Homo sapiens: one gene and its partners. The protein of the gene in region 3 purifies or fractionates together with the protein of the main gene of each other region. This does not show direct contact. Each region holds a gene or a part of one and is shown on either strand. Other genes may lie near its edges.

Region 1 (7,868 bases), about 42 Mb from region 3:
AAAAAACTGAGGCCTGGAGATATCCTGGGAGGAAGAAATGGCAAAGGTAGCAAGGTACTCTGTGTCTCCTGGCTGAAAGGCCTAAGCATTTTCTCTGAAGGCCAGCTCAAGCCTCTAAGAAAGATTCTGCTCCCCAGATGTGAACCCCTCCCCCAGCTGGAGACCCCCATCACCATTCCCTGGGGGCAGAGGCATCCTTGGCTTTATCTTTTTGTCTGTACTTTAAATTATTTCTAATTTTAATCTAAACTGTGCCAGCTAAATGGTGTCAGCGCCCTGCAGTCACAGCTCTGAATCATCCCCCACCCCTGTCTCCCCCATCGCTACTACTGACACTAAGGTCTGGTGAGGGAGGGGCTGTCATGCAGGCTGAACAGGGCTGGGTACTGGGGGCTCTGTCTGGGCATCCCCCCTCCCTCAAGCTGCTTGGTCAAGGAGATGGGAAGGGGCAACAGACAGGCAGGAAATTGGGTTGGATACTGTCTGGGCTTTCTTTAGCCCCAGCTCCCAGGAGAATGGGAACCGTATAGCTGGGGGTGGTGACAACAAAAGACTTCACATGTGCTGTGTTCTCACTATGGGCCAAGATTGTGTTAAAGGACCTTTAACACAGGAACTTTTGTCCTCACTCTCTCCATTCTGCAGATAAGGACACTCAGCCTTGAGAGGCCTAGCTTGGGTCTCTTGCTCTTAACAGGCACAAGCAAGTATTGGAGCCCAAATAATTCTTGGGTACAGAGCCCGAGGTCTTGGTCACAACACTACAAACCCCAAGACTTGCCCTCTAGCCCTCTCCATGTGCACACCCACATCCTCATGGTCTCCCACACACTCACACACACACCCCCACACTGGGCTCTCACCTTCCCTCCCAGCACTGTCACCACACACCTTGTCACACCCCCTCCTGCCGCTAACACCCACGCCCAGGCACTCTCGGTTCCCCACAATCACAGTCACTCCCCAAGCATACACCGGCAGTTTCATAGACTGTGTCCCACCAGTCACACACTCCTACCGTGGCCACACACTCCCAGGCTTACCCCAGCACTGTCCCATCGCATAGCCCTCACACCACCCATCAGCCAGGTACAGCTGCCCAGACACCACCACACCTCTCTGTCACACACACACGCACACACACAACCACACATATCACACATGCACCATACAGCCTCCCTCTGCTGGCCTGCTCACCAAGCCCCAGCTCACTCCACAGCAGGAACGAGGAAACCCCAGGGATCAGTCCCCTCCCTTAGTGACCAGGTGGGCCTGGTCACAGAAACTCAGTGGCAGAGGGAGAGCCACACGTGAGTACACACACATACACACACTTATACAGATACACTCACACATGAGACTGGTGGGTAGGCACCCAACACCAGGGGCTTCCACAATTAACAGATCTAACGTACTCATGGCCAGTTGGTCACCATGATATACCCAGTGTGCAACACCGAAACCTCCAGACACACAGGGACACACACACTAGCAGGCAAGGACACACACACACACACACACACACACGAGTCTGGTGACAACAAACACACCAAGAATGGTACACACAGTTGCAAAAGACACACACAGAGCCTCAGGACACAAACAGACATACACACATACACACAAGCAAGTCACACATGCGAAAAAGGACACACATGCACAGGCAAGTCCCACAGTGACAGACAGCACAGAAGCTGACACAGACACACAACATACCCACACACCCAGATACCAGTGACTTAGCACAAGGAGACAGCTTCCACGCATACAGGGTAGGCGTCAGAGAAGGGGACCCCCCGCCCACTCACAGCAGATCCTTCTGACCAGGTTTAAGGCGGGGCTCGGTGGGGCTCTCCCCTGCCCCAAGAGAGAGGGAACTGGGGAAGTGGGAGCAGTTCCGATGGTGCTCTCCTTCTGCCGCTCCACCACCAGCCAGGAGGACCCCCCCCCCCGACCTCCTCCCCTCATCTGGTGGAGCCCCCACAACGGGAGTGGCATCTGGGTTGGGGGCGAGTACAGACCGTATCGGGCAGGGGCCACCCTGGGAGGGGTCTCAGAGGGGCGGAGGGGTGGGGTGGGAAGGGGGATGGTGGAGACTGGAGCCACGCCCAGCCCAGAGACGGATGAAGGGACCGAGAAAGACTCTTGAGACCGAAAGAAGAGACAGCGAGGAGGAGGCGCCGCGCGGGTCGGGCCTCCAGGGACCCAGGGGCGGGAGGCGAGGCCCGGCGGGCGGCCTGGCCTGGGCCCCGCGGTAGAGCGGAGAGGCGGCTGGACTGGCAGGGGGCGGCGAGCGTGGGCCGGGGGCGCGGCTCCGGGAGGACGGGATCGAGGGGGCGGCGGGCGGGGGTAGGGGTGTGGGTGGGGGTGGGGCGATGGAGCACGCGGAGGGCAAGGGACGGACGGATCGGGTGGCGAGGGACAGAAGGATCGGGTCTCGGAGAGGCGCGCAGGGGGAGAACACAGAGTGGGTGGCGACAGACGGACGGACACAGGGCCCGGGAGAGAGTCGGGAGGGACGGACGGGCCCCTCGGAGGAGCGGGAGACACACGGGCGGGTGGAGGGGCCGGGAGCGGGCAGACAGAAGGACCTCAGCCCCCACTGTCTAGCGGAGGGACACACAGACGGACAGGGGGACGGAGTCACCGGCAGGTCTCGGCGCGGCGGGACTTTCGCTGACCGCGGCTCAGTTTCTCAGTTTCGGAAACGGGAACTGGGGCGGGAAGGGGGAAGGAAGGGCGCCGCGCCCTCGGGGTAGCCCCGATCCCGCGCCCGGACCCGGCCCTCACTTACCTCCCGTTGCAGGGGCAGGCGCCAAGGGTCGCGGCGGCAGCGGCGGGGGCGCCGCTCCCCGGCGCGCGCGGACGGGGTTCGGCGCGGCGCTGACTGGGATGGGCCAAGCGGCCAGTGAGGTGTGGCCCGGGCCTCCGCGCGGCGGGCGGGCGCCGGGGGTCGCTCGGGAGATGTGGGCTACAGCCGCCTCGGGCTCCGGCGCCGCGGCACACGGAAGTGCGAGGGGGCGGGGCCGAGCGACCTCACCCAGGTGCCGCCGGCCCCGCCCCCGCCAGGCCCCGCCCCCGCCAGGCCTCGCCCTGCCAGGCCTCGCCCCGCCAGCTGCAATCGGGGACAGCGTCCCTCCGCCTCTGCCTGCGCGGGACACCGAGTCTCCCGGTCCCTCTGCCCTGCCTGGCCCTCTTCGCATCCTCCCGCCATTAGCGCGCAGCCAGCCCTCAGAAGGGGCCCATTTTACAGAGGAGGACGCTGAGGCCCGGTGGGGAGGCTCCCTCCGCCCGCTGGGGCCTGGGAGGGGCCGGCGGGGGTTCCCCCGCTCCCCACACCCACGCCCGGGACTCCCCACTGGCCAGCTGGCCCGCCTCTCCTGGCCCCACTCCTGCTCTTCCTGTTGGCTGGAGCTCGGACGCGGCCGGGCGCGGTGCCCGCCGCCAAGCCCGCTGTCCCGGCTCTGCCCCAAAGACTGAGCTGGTTAGACTCCAGGGTCGGAGGTTCTCGCTGGTCGGGCGCTGCACTGCTCCTCAGGCGGTTCTGGGAACTGCCCCTACTCGGACTGGCAGTTGCCCCTACCCCGATTGGCAGTCTTCTGCTTTCCTGCCCCCACCTTTGAGACCTCTCTATTGCTCCTGGCAGGCGCCTGAGCCTCCTTTCCAGACATGGAACTTGGTTGTCAGCCATAACTCCTTCATTCATTCATTCACTCATTCATCTATTCACCGAGTGTCCCCTAGGCTCAAAGTCTAGGGACCAGTTGGGGTTCTAGGGAGTCCATTCCCCTGTCCCCAGAGCTCAGAAAGCCAAGACATTAGCCTTATACTCATCCAAAGAAATGTCACTTCCCAGGAGACAAAAAAGAGGGTTCCAGGTCCTGGGGAACCACCTAGAAGGGATAGAGAAAGTCTAGACAGCTCTTCCCAGCTGAGACACAAGGGATGGAAGTGGGGGACAATCCCTGAGGTGGCCTGAGCTGAGAAAGGGGCTTGTGACAGAGACAGGCCATTGGACTTTGGTCTTCTCACAGAGCAATGAGAAGGTGGTGAAAGCTATTACAACCAGGCAGGATGACAGGCTCAAGGGGGCTCCTGCGGGATAGATGGGGCAGAGGGACAGCAGGGCAGAGGAGAGGCTGGATGGGGGACAGAAGGGCTGCCACGTTGTTCAGGTGGGAGGACCCTGGTTGAGATTGCGGAAGATGGATGGGGAGAAAAGGCCAGACCAGGTGGGTTCAAGGACTATCCTTTGGGAAAGACTTTCTCTTCACACCCAGGCCTTGAGCATGCTGTTCTCTGGGCCTGAATGCCATTTCCCACCCCACCCCCAAACCTCTACCTGCCCTGGTTGTGTCCATTCAAATGTCCCTCCTCCCTGATGCCCAGTTGTAATGCACGGCACTTCCCTGAGTGAAGGACCATATTCATTAGCATGTTCTGTGTCCTGATCCCATCCCACCCCACCCATCATGCCCCATGGCTTCCCTGGGGTTGGACTGGAGGAAAGGGTAAACAAGGTGAGCCTCAAGTGACCTTTGCCCACTTGGGATCGGGTTTCCTTCTGGCTCCTCCTTCAGGTCCACAGTAAGCCAACCCAGTCTCTCCCTCAACATAAACAATAGGCCCACCCTGTGCCAGGGACTGCAGCCAGAGGGAGGACTGACCCTTGAGGAGCTCCAGGTCCAGCCACCAGACCTTTGTTCCCACTCCGTGTGGTTCACCATGGAAGAAGGAAATGAATAATCATGGCTATCGCTGATAGGGGCTACCCAGCACCAGGCTGTGTGCTGGGTGCTGGATGTGGGCAGTCTGAACAGTTCTCAAGAGGTGAGGGCTGCTGTTAGTGCCAGTTTTGGTGATGAGCAAACTGAGGCTCAGAGAAAGGAGAAGCGACTTGCCCCAGAGTACACAGCTAGTCAGTGGCAGACGCAGATTCAGACCGAGGTCTGTCTGGCTCCAAAGCCCATAGTTTACATCAGGGATCTCAATTTCAGCACCACTGACCTTTGGGACAGATGATTCTTTGCTGTGGGGGCTGCCCTGTGCACTGTAAGGATGTTGAGCAGCATCCCTGGCCTCTGCCTAGTGGATGCCAATAGTACCTCCCTGCTTTAACTTGTGACAGACAAAAATGTCTCCAAACATTGCCAAATGTCTGCTGCAGGGCAAAATTACCCCTTGTTGAGAATCACTGCTTTGACATATACTGGTGTTACAGGAACAAGATTTACATTAGACAACAGGAAGCACTTTCCTGATCCTCAGGATATGCAGACTTGTGAGCTCAGGGGCTGCAAGCATACACTGGCTTCAGCCAATCTTTCTCCTCTAGAGAAAGGGGAAGTGCGATGTACTCAGAGAGGGTCAGAGGGGCTAAGGCTGTGCTAGCTATGCTGTGGCGAGGGCAGAGAAGGGATGAAGGTGGGCTTCCCTCCAGGCCTTAGGTCCAAGGGTTCCAGGGAGAATAGGTTTGCATGAGGTCCAGAGAATCCAGGCCAAGCTTGACTAGAACCACCCTGCATCTTGGAGCTGCTTCTGGGTGCCACACTGGTGGGCCAGGGCAGGGTCCAGATGAGCTGGTATCTGTGTCCCCATAATCTGCCTTGCATCAACAAGAAGGGCCTGCTGAAGCCTGAGAGCAAACCTTGGCTGTGTCACATGCCAACTGTATGACCCTGAGTAGGTGACCATGCCTCTCCCAGCTTCAGAGTTCTCACCTATGAAAAGGGCTGATGACAGACTCATGTCAGGAGTTGAATGAGGTGGTAAGAGTTAAATGAGATGATATATACAGAGCCTCGGCCAGGCTAGACACATTGCCCAGGGTTACAGCCTGGTCATGTGCCAAGTCACAGGCTGTCAGCCTTGAAAGAGGCTTCAATGGCCTCTCCTGACATGGGGCGTAAATCCCTGAGCAGGGCTAGACTCATAGCAGCTGCCTAGAGGTGATACTTTCCTCCTCCTCCAGGTTTGCAGCCAAGGAGATGGGCTAGGGTGGTGCCAGGCAGCTTCCAGACTCCCACCCACAGCATCCACCCAGGGCTGTTCCTTCTGTGGGCCTCCTGGAGGATTTATCCAGAGGAGAAGCAACTTGACCCCTGCCACCTCTGCCTCCTCCAAAGGCCATCAACCCTGGGAGGCCTCCAGACTCCTCCACTCCTGAAGTCCAAGACTCGGCCAAGCAACCTGGAAAAGGCCTCCCTCTGTCCCTGAGGCCCACACAGCTGAAGGCAAATGGGGTCCCTCACTTGATCCCTGCCAAGAGTTGGTCCTTGTCCTGGCATTTCTGCTTTTTGCACCTTCTCTCTGTTTCTGTCTCTCTGTGTCACCATCCTTGTCCCTGAAGCTTTGGTTGCCACGGCAATCCCCATCACACCCAGAGCACTGGCCTGGCCAAGAGAGAGTGGGCTTGTGTTTCTGGAGCAGGAGACACAGTCAACAGCGACAGTGCACCTGGGCAATTGCTGGGGGCAGCAGAGCCTGGGAGGTTCCCACTGGGGACAGTGTAGTAGGAAGGACACTTGGGACATGCCCATGCCTCAGGCCACCAAGACTGTCATCGACAGGAGTGTCAGCCTCAGGTACTAGGTTAAGGACAAGCAAGGACAGGCTGAGGGGGACAGTGGCCTTGTGGGTAGTGCTGCACAGCAGGGAAGTGCCAGCCCAGGGGCTGGTTCGCATCCTGGCTCTGCCCTGCACTGCAACTTAAATGTGCCTCAGCTTCCTCATCTGTGGAGTGGTGTTTGGTTAAGATCGACCTCCTGAGGCTGAGAGGATGGAAGAGTTCAAGTTCATCCCATGTTGGTGTTACCTGCCAGGCAGAGAGTTGGTGAGGCTGGGCTAATTGCCTCCATGTTCCTTCCTCAACACATTTGTGTTTGGGTGAAACCTGAGACATACTTGGGGGTAGACAAGGGGAAGGTGTGTCCTGGGAGTGCAGAACACAGGGCTTTCCTGTGGCTCTCCCAGGGGTGTGTACCCTGGACTGTCCCTTCTCTGCACTGACCATGGCACAGCCCCTGCCAGCCTGAGTCCCCTTCCCTGGCTCCTCTGCCCCTGCCCCCAAACATGTGTGTAGGTGGGGAGAAGGGGCACTGGTGTTGGGACAGTCATCAGCAAGAGCTATCCCCTCGCACGGAGTCCAGGGGACCTCCCAGCTCTCCTCCACCGCCCCCATCCCCGGCACCCATTTAGCTCTAATCTACGGGGTCCCTACTGGGAGGCTCATGGGGCTTAGCAGGGCAGGGAGGGCTATAAGCCTCACCTGCCTTTCCTTTCGCTCCCTGGCCTGAGGGTGCCTCAGCTCCCCGCTCCCACCTCTCAGCCCCTCATCCCCCACATCCTCAGAGGACAGCTCACCAAACCCAGCTTGGCCCATGGGAAACAGTGTAGGGGGTGGCCCTGAGCTGAAAGGCGGCTGCTCGAGGTTGGCAGGCTGGGAAGGACTGACTGCAGGCACAGCAGGGTCCCCCGCGCCGTGCACACACCTCCATACCCACCGCACAACCACGTACACGCCAGTCGGCGCGACCCCCGTGCACCAGCACAAAGTCCCCCGGGCCCCACCCTCCCGCCCCGCCCCGCCCCGCCCCGCCTCAGGGAAGCCTTTCCGAGCCGGGGGCGCAGACGCCCGCCCAGCCGCGTGACGCAAACCCCGCTATAAAACACCCGGCTCTATTCCCGGGTCCGGCAGCCACCTGGCTCCAGGCGCCGGGAGGCCCTTTCGCCTCCTCACCCTCTTTGTTCTCCAGGAAAGTCAGGAAGACCTGAGCTCGCCCATTCCTTGGATGGAGCAACTGAGGTCCTGGGTGTGAGGGTCGTCCAGGGCACTGCAGCCGGCCTCCTAGTGGGAACCTCTGAGAAGA
Region 2 (7,805 bases), on a different chromosome or scaffold from region 3:
TTTGGCAGACAATTTCGATTTTGTGACTTAATAGAATATATGCTGAACTTAACGGTAAGAAGGCACTTTACTTTTTTGAAACACTTGGTAAAATTGCATGTAATGCCTGGTAATGAAGCGATAAGTGATACCTTTACTCTAAAACACACTTTGGAAAAAATAAAATGAATCTTGAATTCCTTCTAAAGGAACTTCAATAAGGTGTGAGTAACTTAACCCTTTTGACACGCATTAACCACAGGGATGACACTGTGTGTAAAATAACCTTGGTGTTAACAACTGCGCAGCAAAGACCAATCTTTATTATGCCGTGGAGTCCAATATGAGAGGCGAAGAAAGGTATGTTTTAAAAAGGTGTTTAGCTCGGCCGGGAACGGTGGCTCACGCCTGTAATCCCAGCACTTTGGGAGGCCGAGGCGGGCCGATCACGAGGTCAGGAGATCCAGAACATCCTGGCCAACATGGTGAAACCCGGTCTCTACTAAAAACACAAAAATTAGCTCGACGTGGTGGCTCGTGCCTGTAATCCCAGCTACTCGGGAGGCTGAGACAGGAGAATCGCTTGAACCAGAGAGTCGGAGGTTGCAGTGAGCCGAGATCGCGCCACGGTACTCCAGCCTGGCGACAGAGCGAGACTCCGTCTCGGAGGAGGGGAGGGAGGTGTTTAGCTCAACTAGACAGCCTTTACAGCAATTCCGCCACCGGTGACAGTGAGAAACTGTCAGCTTGGGGAGGCCGCGCCACGACTGGACCCCGCCCCCGGGAAGCCTCCCCGGAGCCGAGGGCCCCCGGGCCTTCTCCTCGGAGTCGGGAAGTGCCTGCCCCCACGCTAAGTCTCTCCTGGCCACGCTCTGAAAGGCAAAAATGGCAAAAATCCTCCTTCAAGGCACCGCTCCCTCGACGCGCACCGCCACTCCGACTCCCTCAAAACATTGGTCGCAAAGCCCCCCCGCCTGGTCCTCCATGCTCAAGAATAGGGTGGCAAGGCAGGAAAAGACTCACACATCCCAGCCCCCGGCCCCTCAGGGCAGCCTCTGTGTTTCTAACTAAAAGCCTCCTACCAGGGGCAAGACCAAGTTCGGGCGCTTCCCCGCATGGAGAAACGCTGGCCCCACGGCGCCCGGCCCCGACGCGCTGGCCCTTTAAAGGCGCGGGCTTCCTGCGCCCGGGGCCCCTCCCACGCCACCGCCACCGCCACCGCCACCGCCCGCGCCCGCCCCCGCCGAGGGTCACACTTGAACTTTAGCTCGCCCCGCGCGGCCAGGCGCCGGCGCTCCGCAGGCGGTGGCCGCCCCTTCGCACGTGTCGGAGGCACCACCTCGGGCTCGGGACGCCGGGCCCCCGGCACTCGAGGCCACTCCGGAGAAAACCAAAACAAAGCAAAATGCGCACCGCCTCCAGAAACTGCCCGGCAGGCCCTGCACCGTCCCCGGCCGGTCGCGCCCTGCCTGTCCCCTCCACCTGCAGCCCGGTCCCGGGGCAGCGAGGCTCCGGGGCCCCTCGCCGCGCCCTCCCCCGCCGCGCCCGGCGGAAACAGCTCCGCGGCGCGGCCGGAGAGAACCCGCCCTCCCCCCGCGGAGGTCCGGGAGGGAAGGGGCAGCCGAAGCAGTCGGCGCGGGCCGGGGGTTGCCGCTCCCAGCGAACCCCTTTCTCCTTTCACTGGCAAACTTTTCGGCCTCGCTCTGACGTCCACTTCTTGGCGCACTTTCTTTACTTAGTTCCCCAACGAGCCCCTTACCGCGTCCCACGCGAACTCCTGACTGGCGCGCACGCACACCTACTGCCGTCCCCGACCGGACCCGGGCGAGGCCACCGCGACCACCGCTTCTCGCCCGCCCTCCTGGGAACGCGCTGCCCTCCTGCTCCGCACCTTCAGGCCGAGCAAACCTGCACAGCTGCGCCCTCGCCTGACCCACCGCGCCCCCAAGGTCCGGCCGCGCGCCGAGTCCACTCACCTTCCAGCCCGCCGAGCTGTTGCTGTCACCCTTATCCTTGAAGTAGGGCACGCTCTTGACCATCCACTCGTAGATCTGCGACAGCGTGAGCCGCTTCTCCGCCGAGCTCTCGATGGCCTTGGTGATGAGGTCGGCGTAGGACAGGTTGCCCCACGCGTTGCGGCGGGACGAGCTGCTCTTGCGCGGCTGCCCCGCGAGCGGCCCAGCGGCGGCGGGGGGCACCGGCGGGTGCTGCGACAGCGGCCCGGGCGGCGGGGGCTGCGGTGGCGCTGGGTGCAGGCAGCCCGCCTCCGGGCCCTGGAAGTCCCCGCACAGCCCCCCGGTGGCGGCCGCGGCGGCCGCCGCCGCCACCGCCGCCGCCACGGAGCCGGGCGCCTGCGGGAAGTCCTCGCTCTCCTCCAGCAAGCTCAGGTTGCTCATGAAGTCGGCGCTGACAGCGGCAGCCGAGGCCGAGGGCAGGCCCGCCGCGGCGTCGGGGTTGGCAGCCGCGCTGCCCGACGGCGCCGGGCTGGAGGTGGCCGAGTTGGACTGGCTAAACTCCGGCCTGGGCAGCGGCCAGGTGCACGAGCGCGGCCGGGGCAGCGGCTCGAAGTCCGGGTCGATCTCCACCACCTGAGGCGCCTCGGCCATGGTGACCCCCGCCCCTCCCCCAGCCGCAGGAGAGCCAAGAGGGGGAGAACGCAGCACTGGGGGCGGACGGGGAGGGGGCGCGAAGGGACGGTCCGAGATTTGGGGGAACGAAGCCGGTGCGGCGAGCGGACGGAAACTGGGAGGAAGGCGCGGCGGAGTGGAAGCGCGAGCCCAGAACTTAACTTCGCGGGGCCATCCACATCGAGGCTCCTCGGGGTCCGCCGCACGGACTGGACGGCCGGCCAGAGCCGCCGGGCCGGGGCAGAGCCTGCGCCGCGCTCCAGCTGACAGGGCCGCGGACGGAAGGACGGACGGACGCCGCGGGCCGCTTGCTCTCCCCAGCGGCGCGCCCGCTGCGCTGCTGCCTGTTGAATGTGGCGGCTGCGGCAGCGGCTGCTGCGACTACCAGGCCGCCCGACTTACGGGATCTGCCGCCGCCCCCCGCCCGCGGCGGCGCGCGCGCCGGCCCGCCCCTGACCGACAGCCCGCGCGGCCAATGGGCATGCGGCACCGCCGCCCGGGCAGCCAGTGGGCGCCGGGCTGGGTGGGGCCCGGTTTTCCACGGGGAGGCGGCGGTGGGCTGGTGGGGGGTAGTGGGGTGTTTTTCTCTTTCACACACTCACCTCCTTTTTTTTTTTTTGGATCTCTATTATTTTCTGGTAATTCTCGAGTGTTTCTGTGATTCTCTCGCCTTCTCAGTGTTTTGATTGCTAGGAAGCAAACCAGCGTGGAGGCGCCGGCGACACTTTGTTTACTACGGAGCAGCAGAGCCGAGTACTCGGGAAGCCCGGGTGGGAGGAGGCGCTCGCTGCTCCCTGACCTCCGCTGCGGGCCGAGCCCGGCGGGCTGGCAGGGCAGGGGGCCGAGGGCCGGGGGCGCGGGGTGGGCGGGCGGAGGCGGCCGCGAGGAATTCTACTCAATCGCTCCCTCCTGGCTCCACCCACGATGTCTTTGCTGAACGACGTGGGGAATCGGTGGGTTTTGTTTTGGTTTAATGTTTTCTTTCGCTGCGATCTGTCAAGTCCTCCGGCCCCCTCGCGAGCGGCACACGCCCCCCACCCCCGGCGCCGCGGCTCCTGCAGTCGAGTCCGCGCCGAGGGACCCTTCTCCGTGCCCACCGGTCCGCACCCCCGGGCTCAGCCTGTGCCATTCGGTCTAGCCAGAGGCGCGTCACCCAGCCGGCAGCCCCCAGCCGGATTCACTGTATTCTTGACCTTTTTTAAAATGCTAGAAATGAGGAACAGGGGCTCCGGCGCGGGGAGGAGATTATCTGGCCTCCCTGAACACACGAATCCAAAGGCACCCGCGACCGCATGCCCTCCGTGGGAACCTCTTCCCCTGGGCGGGAATCTCCCGCTCCGTCCACTAAGTCCAGGGCCGGCAGCGAAGGGCTCAGGAGCGCAGTTAGAGAGAACCAGGTCATTTTATTACTTATCCCTAATTAAATTTAGCTGTTTGTTACTTCTTTTTTATTTGCAACGGAAGTGATCGGGTGTTAAGTAAAAACGCAAGGGGGGCGGGAGATAGGACCAAAGCCTTGGGGCGCAGCCTGCCCCACCCCCAAATTCCTTGAGGCTACTTGCTGTGTGTGTCAGTCAACCCCCCACCCACACCCCACCTTTCCTCATCTGGGCTGCAGGTCCAGGACATCCTGTCAAGGATCAGTGGGGCCAAAGGTGGGAAGATAATGGCCCTTGTGTCTCAAGCAGAAGAAACAGTTTTCCAGTTTTGTTTTGTTATGCTTTTGCTTTTTTAGGAAGAATATGGAAGGCATTTCCTTTTAGAAAGATGGGACCACTTAGGATGGAAGATGGACAGTAGGGTTTTAAATATCTTGTCCAAAAGGACAGCTTCCAACTCTTGTTTTTTAATCCCTTTCTTTCTTACAAGTAATTCTGCAATGGAAAAAGTGGCATCTAGAGAAAATTAGTCAGTTGGACAAGAGGTTGTTGAAAAAATAAAAGAGAAAAGAGGGGAAAAAAGGAAAAATTAGGCCTCTTACAAAAGTTAAAAAGATTGAGAGAGATTATCTTTCTTCTTTTATATTCTCACTATCGTCTCTCTAGTCCGGGCTCCTGTTTCTTCATAATCTATTTATCACAACAGCTTCTTGCTGATACTAGGCATGGGTGGGGTGGGGAGCGTGAGCCGGATGGATTGGGGACGGGCGGGGACTGGTTCCCACCCTGGTCTTGTGGTCTCTTCACGTTTACTATCAAATTTGGACAGTCTGGGCCTCCTCTGACAGCCGCTAGGGGACCTCAGTAACTCAGATGATGAGCTCAAAGGCAGGCCCCCAAAGTACAGCTGTTGCTTCCCCCCACCTTTCCAATTACACTCTGCAGAAGCAGCCCCCGATCCAGACAGCCGCACCCTAAAAATAGGCGGTGCCCTACTGGATCATTCTTGGCAAAGGAAGCCAGCTTCAAATTTGGCCTTGCCTTCATTTCTATTCCGGTTTTTCAGGGCGTCAGAGAATATTTATTTGGTTAAAGGAGTCTTCCTACAGACTTTCCCCAAATCCTTGAAATCTTTGAGGCTCTCCTGCCCAATTGTTTCTTCAAATGTCATAGTTTACTTTTATTTGGTCTTTCTTTAAAAAAATTGACGAGGCAGGCACAGAGAACCTATAACACCAATGTCCCTGACACATAGGTCCAAAAAATTAAAAATATATATTGAAGGGTTTTTACAGCTAACCACCACACTGTTGTATCTAAATATCAATTTACTGAACCCCAGGATGTTGGTGAATATTTCACTTGTTTCCAGTCTTTAGCTATCATAGACTATTCTGTAAGAAATAACCTTGCAGGGAGGCCGAGGCGGGCGGATCATGAGGTCAGGAGATAGAGACCATCCTGGCTAACACGGTGAAACCCGTCTCTACTAAAAATACAAAAAATTAGCCGGGCGTGGTGGCGGTCGCCTGTAGTCCCAGCTACTCAGGAGGCTGAGGCAGGAGAATGGCGTGAACCCGGGAAGCGGAGCCAAGATCGCCCCACTGCACTCCAGCCTGAGCAACAGAGCGAGACTCCGTCTCAAAAGAAAAAAAAAAAAGAAATAACCTTGCATAACTTTAATTTCATATCTGTACAAGTATATATATAGGAGCAATTTCCAGAAATGGGAGTCACTGGGTCAGCAGGTATACCCATTCGTAGTTTTGAAAGGCACAGCCAAATTGTGCTCCACAAGGGTTATATCAAGCTAAACTGTCTTTTCCATTAGACCCACAGAACGTTAAACTTGAAAGTAAACTCGGAGATCACCTTGGTGACCCCCTTTAACTTAGAAAAAGAGAGGTGCAGAGATGCTGATTTGCCCCAGCGCACATAATAAAAGTGGTGATGCCAGGGCTGTAGCTCTAATTTTTTGCTTTCCCATTAGTAACCTTCTCAAAACACAGATGGAAAATTATAAATATCCTGTAATCCCACTATAGCAATAACCATTATAACTTCGTAGTGTATTTCCTTCCAGTCAACCCGCAGATCTTAGTAATCATAGTTAGGTGAACTCCACTGAACCAAATAAAGGTTTGAATTAAAAGAACAAATAGGCCGGGCACAGTGGCTCATGCCTGTAACTCCAACAGCTTGGGAGGCCGAGGCAGGTGGATCACCTGGGGTCAGGAGTTCCAGACCAGCCTGGCCAACATGGTGAAACCCCATCTCTACTAAAAATACAAAAATTAGCTGGGCGTGGTAGCAGGTGCCTGTAATCCCAGCTACTCAGGAGGCTGAGGCAGAAGAATCCCTTGTACCCCGGAGGTGGAGGTTTCAGTGAGTCGAGATCACACCACTGCTCCAGCCTAGGCGACAGAATGAGACTGTATCTCAAAAAAATTTAAAAATTAAAAAAAAATAAAATAAAATAAAAGATCAAGAAAACAGACATAAAACAATGATAGTGGTAATAAGATAATGAAAGAAGAGATTACAAAAGAAGTTTTTCTGTTTTTTTTTTTTGTTTTTTTTTTAGTCAAAAATGTAAATGTTGCCATCTCTGAAGGGTGACATAGTATTTAGGTCATCCCTGGTTCTGCTTAAGGGAAAAAGTTCTTTTCTCCTTCCTTGTGTTTTGTGGTTGCAGCTTGCTTTGAAGGTATTTTCTACTGATTATCACTTAGTTGCTGCATGTGTCTGAACTGGGAAGAAATAGGGAAGAAAAATGTCTCATGTCAAGTAAGGACAATTAAAATGAAAAAGGAAATTTATCCTTACAAAGTCCATCTCACAAAACTATGTGATGTTCTTTTCTGTGCCTGGTTTTCAGGGTAACTATTGCCTCATCCTTAACAGGAAGACTGAGGGATGGTTCCCTTTGATCAATGCCCAGGCAGAAATTTCTACATTTACCCCTCACCAACACATGATAGATCTCGGGTTTAAATTTAAATTTTTACTTGTCAAAATAGATAATTTAAGTTCCATTTAATGAGTAAGTGAAAAACTTGGATGCTGATTTTTCAGTCAGGGCACTTCACTTCGTATTTCACATTCCCTTTCCCCAACAACTGTCCGTTTCCAAAACTTTGTCTGAATTATTAGGAGGTACTGCTGTCAACCTGAAACAGCCTTTCTTCACTTAGCCCATAGAAAGTAATAATCTGAAAAAAATATATATAGCCTCAGGTCTTTAAACCAATGTCCTGAAGGCTGGCATATTAACTGGTAGCTGTAGTAAGATTAGAAGTAACCATTCGTTTCTCTTAAGGGATAATTTCCTTGGGGTTTTGTCACTAATTCCACAAATATCTACAGAGCACCTCCTACATATATGTCAGGTGCTGTGCATCTTAGAGTCCATTGTTTTGATGCTAAATTCCTTGAGCTCCAAAATGGTTTATTTTCCCTGATACGATATTTGCTATCAGAGTTAAGAACGCTGTTCTTTTCTAATCAGCAATGCATAGTGACAATATTTATTTGGAGGAATTACACAAAAATGTTTTTGATAGGTAAAAGAAATGCTAAGGCTGGAAAAATTGAAATATAGTCACCATTTTGGAGGAAAATAATGATATGAAGTGGAAAAGATTTAAAAATGCACCATCCACAGGCACTGGGAGTATGAGTTCCGACCACTAAGCCTCATGGTTGGGATGATCTTATTACAAATGGACAAAAGACGGAGACTACCTCTGGTTATCTGTCTACTAACCTGTAACAGAAGGGAAGCAGTGAACCACTTCTTTTGTCAATTCTGTTGTGAAGG
Region 3 (7,028 bases):
GCACTCCAGCCTGGGCGACAGAGTGAGACTCCATCTCAAAAAAAAAGAAAAAAAAAAAAAGAGGAGAGGAAGACATTAGCGAACGTCATTTCCATGGGTAGAAGTGGACGACAGAGGCAAACTGAATTCCAAATAAAATCAGAGGTCAGGGTTAATCTATTAGAGACACTAGTCAAAGAATTTTGTTACTGCTCAATTCCACACAGCAAATTCATTTCTGCCCTCCCGTCATCAGGATCCTGATTCTTGTCCCCTTCTTCTGTTTCATCCTATCAGTTACCAAGTCCAGCAAATTCCACCTCCTTAATCTCTCAACTCCTCCCACTCCTCTCCATCTCCACTGTCACTGCCTTCATCCAGATCTTCATCCTGTCACCTGGATCACTGCAACTATACCCAACTGGTCCCCTGCTTGTCTTTTTCTGTCCAGTGTAATCACCACATTGCTGCCTGGGTAATTTAAAACAGATGAGAGGATGTCGCATCTGTTTTAAAATCTTCAGTGTCCTGCTCTCCACCCCCGCCCCCACATTTTAGAGTCCAAACTTCTGGGCCTGGCAATATTAATGACTACTGTTTATTGAGTATTTATCATCTACCAGTGTCAAGTGAGTAACATATCACCTCGTACAGTTTTTATTTCCCCTTCTTAGAGATGAGGAAACTGAAGCTTAGAAAGAAGTGACTTGCCCAGGGTCACAAAACTAGTTCAGTGGCAATGGGAATATTGGTACGCAGCTATCTTGGATCCCAAAGTCTATGTGCGGGTAACATGCTATTGTCCACAGGGCCCTTCACGATGTGGCTAGTGCTTACCTTTCCAGTCACCTCTCATCCTACACCTCCACACTGGCACTCCAGTGAACCACAAGCAGGCCATGCATTCTCACCTCTAGCCCTTTGCTCATCTCACTTCGAACCACTCTTCACCTGTCAGATCTCGTTCGTCCTTCAGGTCTTGGCTAAAGCAGCACCTCCTCACTGAAACCTTCTCTGATGAGTCAGCCTGACTTATGCGTACCCTAAGTCCTCCTCTACCAAACCTCCGCAATAGCTTCATGCCATACCGTTGCTATCTCCTTGGCTTAAAAAAAAAGTAAACTCTTTGAGGACAGGGATGTGTATCTTACTCATTTTTGTATTCCCAGCTTGCAGCGCAGTGCCAGACACACAGCTGAAGCTCAATAAATGTTTATTCTCTATAATGAGATGCTGGCTGGGAACGAAAAACGGAACCTGTGGTTGAGTAATGGAAAGTCCAGTACTCAGCTCTTAAAGGATTTCAAAATCATGTCACATGAGGGCAGGAAGGAGTTGGCCAAGATAAATGGAAGAGGAAGGGGAGATGTTCGAAGCAGCAGAAGCAAAGGGCTATAGGTGACACACACCTGCAAGCAGCTTAACAAGACTGGAGCAGCGTTGGGGGATGGGAAAGCAGTTTAGCAACATGAGCCATTCCAAGACTGGACTTTTCTTTATTCAAGTGTTAGGTCACTTCCTCAGGGAAGCCATCCCTGACTAGCTAGCTTTTATGCTTCCCCCCAATTACTGTCCATCCCATGACCCTGTACGTTTCAGAATCGGAAACACCTACCAACCCTTACTGACAATGCCGCCACCGCCACCACCACCACTATTATTAGAAGGTGCCATGAAACAGGGTTCTTTTTCTTCTTATTTTACTGATAGATCACCAGTGCCCACAATAATGCCAGGCACATAACAGGCAAATATTTGTTTTATTCATTCATCCAACAAATATTTATTGAGCATATATAATATGCTAGGCATTGCTCTATATGCTGGGGATATAACAAAACATGACAAAATTTGCTGTCACTGTTAAGTTTACTATGAGCAAATACATTAAATATGCTTAGCCTAGAGAAGAAAAGGTGAGAAGAGGAAGACAAACTAGCAGCTTTCAATGATGTATAGGGCAATTAAATGCAGGGGTGATTCCAAGAGCCTGAAGGAGGAACAGTGAGCTAAGATTACCGAGTAGCTGCTTTCAGCTCAACCTAAGAGTCAGAACTGGGGGAGGACCAAACAGGAGCAACCAGAAGTAGAAAGCTTTCTGTCACTGAAGAAATCTGGCCAGTGGGCAGAGGTGTCAGAGAAAAAAATCTAAGTAGTCAATGAAAAAGGGAGTCTGGGATCCAGAGGTCCCAAACTGACAGCCACAGATATGACTGGTTACAGTTGAACAGGGTTTTGTAAAAACTGAGTTGCCAATGTTTTTAAACGCCAGAATTACTTGCCAATTTTTAAAAAATGGCATCAGTCGCCAGTGTTTAAAAATCAGGAAACTGCACGCACGTGCACACACACACGGTTTGGCTTGTACTTCTCCAACATCATGTACGTTAGTACTGTACTTATAAAATTAGAAGTTTGACTCTATTTCTGACAAATGTTCTAACACCTATATTTACCTTACCGGATTGATTCTTATTGTGCATTAGTTTCTAACCCTGTAACCAAGGAATCGAGAATCTTCTTTCTCAGAAAGTAAACTTATTTAACCTCCTCACTTAAACAAATGGCGGATTATCATTCCCATTTTGCAGATGGAAAAGCAGCTTAGATGGGGAAGGAACGTGCCAGAGACAGCAAATCCAGACACAGCCAGGCTGGGAATCCAAATGTCCCATCTCCCGTGTTCCAACACTGAAGATTCTGAGCACTGCCTACCAAGAGGACAGGAGGGGCTGACTTAGGAAATCAGCACGAGCTTCCAAGTCAGAAGACCCCGGACTGAACCAGTCTGAGGGGACGCGGCTACAGACGAAGGGCGCCAGCCGGAATCAGTGAGTCCCTGGAGGAGGAAGGACCACCCAGAAACTGGCAGAGGAGGATCCTGAGACTTGCTGTGACCCTCGCCCTCCCTGGCGAGCTCGCCCCTTGACTCCAGGCCTCCAAAACCGGCCCAGCAAGACCCCACTACACCCTCGCCCGCCGCGGCTCACTTACCGCCGCTCAACTTCCGGCAACCACAGCTCTCTCTGAGGCGCGCGCCCCGATGACGCAACGCGGTCCTGCCCGCGCTTGCCACTGGGAAGCGGCGCGCGTGCGCAAAGGAGCAGAGGCATGCCGGGGAAATGCGCCCCTAGCACCGAGCTAAGTGGGAGGAACTTGAGTCGTGAGGAGGGCGGGGCATCAGGGGGCGGTGACGCCCCCGGGGGAAGCGATGGAGAGCGTCTCCCTTACCAGATGTCGGAATGTCTACATTCCCTTCAGGCTTTTAAGAAAGTGCCCACGTTCTCTCTTTTGATTTCAGAGGATGACAGGAATGATCACCATGGTCATTCTCCAGGAGAGGCGGCATCAAACGCAGCACAGGGGCCATCAGGGTGGCAGGTGTGGAGAGCCAGGAGATGAGAATTTTAGTAGGAAAAGGCCAGTGAACGTCGACAGTGACCAACCTGCCTTTTCTAAACCAGCCATCATTCTCACAGCTCCTCACTGTCAGTGAGATAAAGTTATTCCCTCTCAATACTTGGTTAGATACTCTGCGCGTGCAAAGCACTGGACAGGTGTTGAAGATACAGCAGTGATTATGACAAGTTTCTCTGTCTGGCCTGTAAGGCCTTTCACAAATTAACTCTGATATACCACTCTAGACTCATAACAACAAGAGCGATGACTGCTATTAATTAACTAGCCACCATGTTTTCAGGGTTTTACATCTCTAATCCTCACAAGAGTCCTGAAACATATCCCCAAGTTATATATGAAAGAACAGAATCTAAGAAAAGTTAGGTGGCTTGCTGAAAGTTAAAGGGCTTTTGGGCCAGGAACGTAATCTGAAGTTTGTTTGATTCTGGCAAATAAGAAAACAAATCCAGACTAATAAGGATACTTATTAGAAAGGATTACTGCAGGCCCGGCGCGGTGGCTCACGCCTGTAATCACAGCACTTTGGGAGGCCGAGGCGGGCGGATCACGAGGTCAGGAGATCGAGACCATCCCGGCTAAAACGGTGAAACCCCGTCTCTACTAAAAATACAAAAAAATTAGCCGGGCGTGGTGGCGGGCGCCTGTAGTCCCAGCTACTTGGGAGGCTGAGGCAGGAGAATGGCGTGAACCCGGGAGGCGGAGCTTGCAGTGAGCCGAGATCCCACCACTGCACTCCAGCCTGGGCGACAGAGCGAGACTCCGTCTCAAAAAAAAAAAAAAAGAAAGGATTACTGCAAGAAGTGAGAGAGGTGGGAGAGAAGGAACCGTGCAATAGCAGAGGGAGACTATTGCAATAGTGAGATCACTCTGACCAAAACATCCGCAGATGTTTCAATGGTTAGGGAAAAAGAGGGTTCCCCCACCCCCCACCCTCCCCAAAGGCAGGTAAACAAGGCTGGAAACAACCGAATATGGGAAGTGGGATGAAGGGGTGGCTTGATCAGATAGTAGATTAGAGAATGTTTTATCTTGAGGCCAACCTATTCTCAGTAGGGGTTGTGTGTGTCAGTCTCTGAGCCCAAGCTAAGCCATCATATCCCCAGTGACCTGCACGTATACATCCAGATGGCTTGCAGCAACTGAAGATCCGCAGAAGTGAAAATAGCCTTAACTGATGACATTCCACCATTGTGATTTGTTTCTGCCCCACCCTAACTGATCAATGTACTTTGTAATCTCCCCCACCCTTAAGAAGGTTCTTTTATAGTCTCCCCCACCCTTAAGAAGTTTCTTTGTAATTCTCACCACCCTTGAGAATGTACTTTGTGAGATCCACCCCCTACCCCCAAAACATTGCTTTTAACTCCACCGCCTATCCCAAAACCTATAAGAACCAATGATAATCCCACCACCCTTTGCTGACTCTCTTTTTGGACTCAGCCCACCTGCACCCAGGTGAAATAAACAGCCTTGTTGCTCACACAAAGCCTGTTTGGTAGTCTCTTCACACGGACACATGAGACAGTATGCTAGTTCAAGCTGAGAGTAGGTTAAAGTAAGGAGCCTGGGGAAAGGAAAGAAGCTTAACCCAAGTTTGGTTAATAAGCATTTTTTCCAACTGGTCAATGGAGACAAGCAGCTCTGTAATCATTTATGAGGCAAAGAATGGGAATTCAGAAGGACTGTGTTTGACCTTGCCACAGTAAACAAGGGAGGCAACCAGGAGTCATTTAAGTGACATGAGAATGGGTATTTCTTTGTAGTGAACATTTTCTGAAGCACAAAAAGGTTAAGAAAGATTTCTCTTTTTTGCTTTATCTTTTTTTTTTTTTTTTTTTGAGACGGGGTCTCCCTCTGTTACCCAGGATAGAGTACAGTGGAGTGATCATAGCTCACTGCAGACTCAACCTCCTGAGCTCCAGGGATCCTCCCACCTCAGCCTCCTGAGTAGCTGGGACTACAGGTGCATGCCATCATGCCGGGCTAATTTTCTCATTTTTTGTAGAGACTGGGTCTTGCTATGTTGCCAGGGCTGGTCTTGAACTACTGGACTCAAGTGATCCTCCCACCTTCACCTCACAAAGTGCTGGGAATACAAGTGTGAGCCACCTTGCCCAGCAAGGATTTCTTTTTCCTTTTTTTTTTTTTTTTTGAGACGGAGTCTCGCTCTGTCACCCAGGCTGGAGTGCAGTGGCACAATCTTGGCTCACTGCAAGCTCCGCCTCCCAGGTCCATGACATTCTCCTGCCTCAGCCTCCCAAGTAGCTGGGACTATAGGCGCCCACCACCTCGCCCGGCTAATTTTTTGTATTTTTAGTAGAGACAGGGTTTCACCATGTTAGCCAGGATGGACTCGATCTCCTGACCTCATGATCCACCCGCCTCAGCCTCCCAAAGTGCTGAGATTACAGGTGTGAGCCACCACGCCCAGCCTTTTTTTTTTATTTATTTATTTTTTTGAGATGGAGTTTCACTCTTGTTGCCCAAGCTGGAGTGCAATGGCGCAATCTTGGCTCACTGCAACCTCCACCGCCCGGGTTCAAGCGATTCTTCTGCCTCAGCCTCCCAAGTAGCTGGGATTACAGGTGCATGCCACCACACCCGGCTAATTTTTTGTATTTTTAGTAGAAACGGAGTTTTACCATGTTAGCCCGCCTGATCTCAAACTCCTGACCTCAGGTGATCTGCTCACCTCGGCTTCCCAAAGCGCTGCGATTACAGGCGTGAGCCACTGCACCTGGCCAAGAAGGATTTCTTAACCTTTACTGTCAGAGGCATTTGAACCAGAATGACTCCATCTTGAATAGGGGCTGAGTAAAGTAAGGCTGAGACCTATTGGGCTGCATTCCCAGGAGGTTGGGCATTCTTACTCACAGGATAAAACTGGAGATCAGGGTATGACAGAGGTCACAAAGACCTTGCTGATAAAGGTTGTGCTAAAGAAACGTGCCAAAACCCACCAAAACCAAAATGGTGACGAGAGTGACCTCTGGTCATCCTCATTGCTTATTATACGCTAATTATAATGCATTAGCATGCTAAAAGACACTCCCACCATTGCCATGACCTTTTACAGATGCCAAGGCAATGTCAGAAAGTTGCCTTATGCAGTCTGAAAAGGGGAGGAACCCTCAGTCCCAGGAATTGCCCACCCCTTTCCCAGAAAACTCATGAATAATCCACCCCTTGTTTAGCATATAATCAAGAAGTAACTATTAGCATAATCAATTGAGCAGCCCATGCCACCACACACTGCCTATGGAGTAGCCATTCTTTTACTCCCTTTTTTTCTTTTTTCTTTTTTTTTTTTTTTGAGATGGAGTCTCACTCTGTTGCCCAGGCTGGAATGCAATGGCGCATCTCTGCTCACTGCAACCTCTGCCTCCTGGTTTCAAGCAATTCTCCTGCCTCAGCCTTCCTAGAATATGGTGAGCAATTCTCCTGCCTCAGCCTCCCTAGAAGCTGGGATTACAAGAACACACCACCATGCCTGGCTAATTTTTGTATTTTTTTTTTAATACAAATGGGGTTTCTTTCTTTTTTTTTTTTTTTTCCAAGACAGAGTCTTGCTCTGTCACTGGGCTGGAGTGCAGTGGCGTGATCTCGGCTCACTGCAACCTCCGCCTCTT

What was found.
Region 1: the proteins of ATG7 (region 3) and PRKCD purify together in Homo sapiens (affinity purification with western blotting; 2 studies listed by BioGRID). This does not show direct contact.
Region 2: the proteins of ATG7 (region 3) and FOXO1 purify together in Homo sapiens (affinity purification with western blotting; 4 studies listed by BioGRID). This does not show direct contact.

Annotation. Positions count from the first base shown.
Region 1 is NC_000003.12:53,156,355-53,164,222, reverse strand, and holds the start of PRKCD (protein kinase C delta type), read right to left. Parts: upstream 3,015-7,868; 5' UTR 2,795-3,014; intron 2,717-2,794; exon of another isoform or gene 2,648-2,716; intron 1,742-2,647; exon of another isoform or gene 1-1,741.
Region 2 is NC_000013.11:40,663,628-40,671,432, forward strand, and holds the start of FOXO1 (forkhead box protein O1), read right to left. Parts: upstream 3,015-7,805; 5' UTR 2,586-3,014; coding exon 1,956-2,585; intron 1-1,955. UniProt on the Homo sapiens protein: Transcription factor that is the main target of insulin signaling and regulates metabolic homeostasis in response to oxidative stress.
Region 3 is NC_000003.12:11,268,376-11,275,403, reverse strand, and holds the start of ATG7 (ubiquitin-like modifier-activating enzyme ATG7), read right to left. Parts: upstream 3,008-7,028; 5' UTR 2,974-3,007; exon of another isoform or gene 2,695-2,973; intron 1,191-2,694; exon of another isoform or gene 1-1,190. UniProt on the Homo sapiens protein: E1-like activating enzyme involved in the 2 ubiquitin-like systems required for cytoplasm to vacuole transport (Cvt) and autophagy.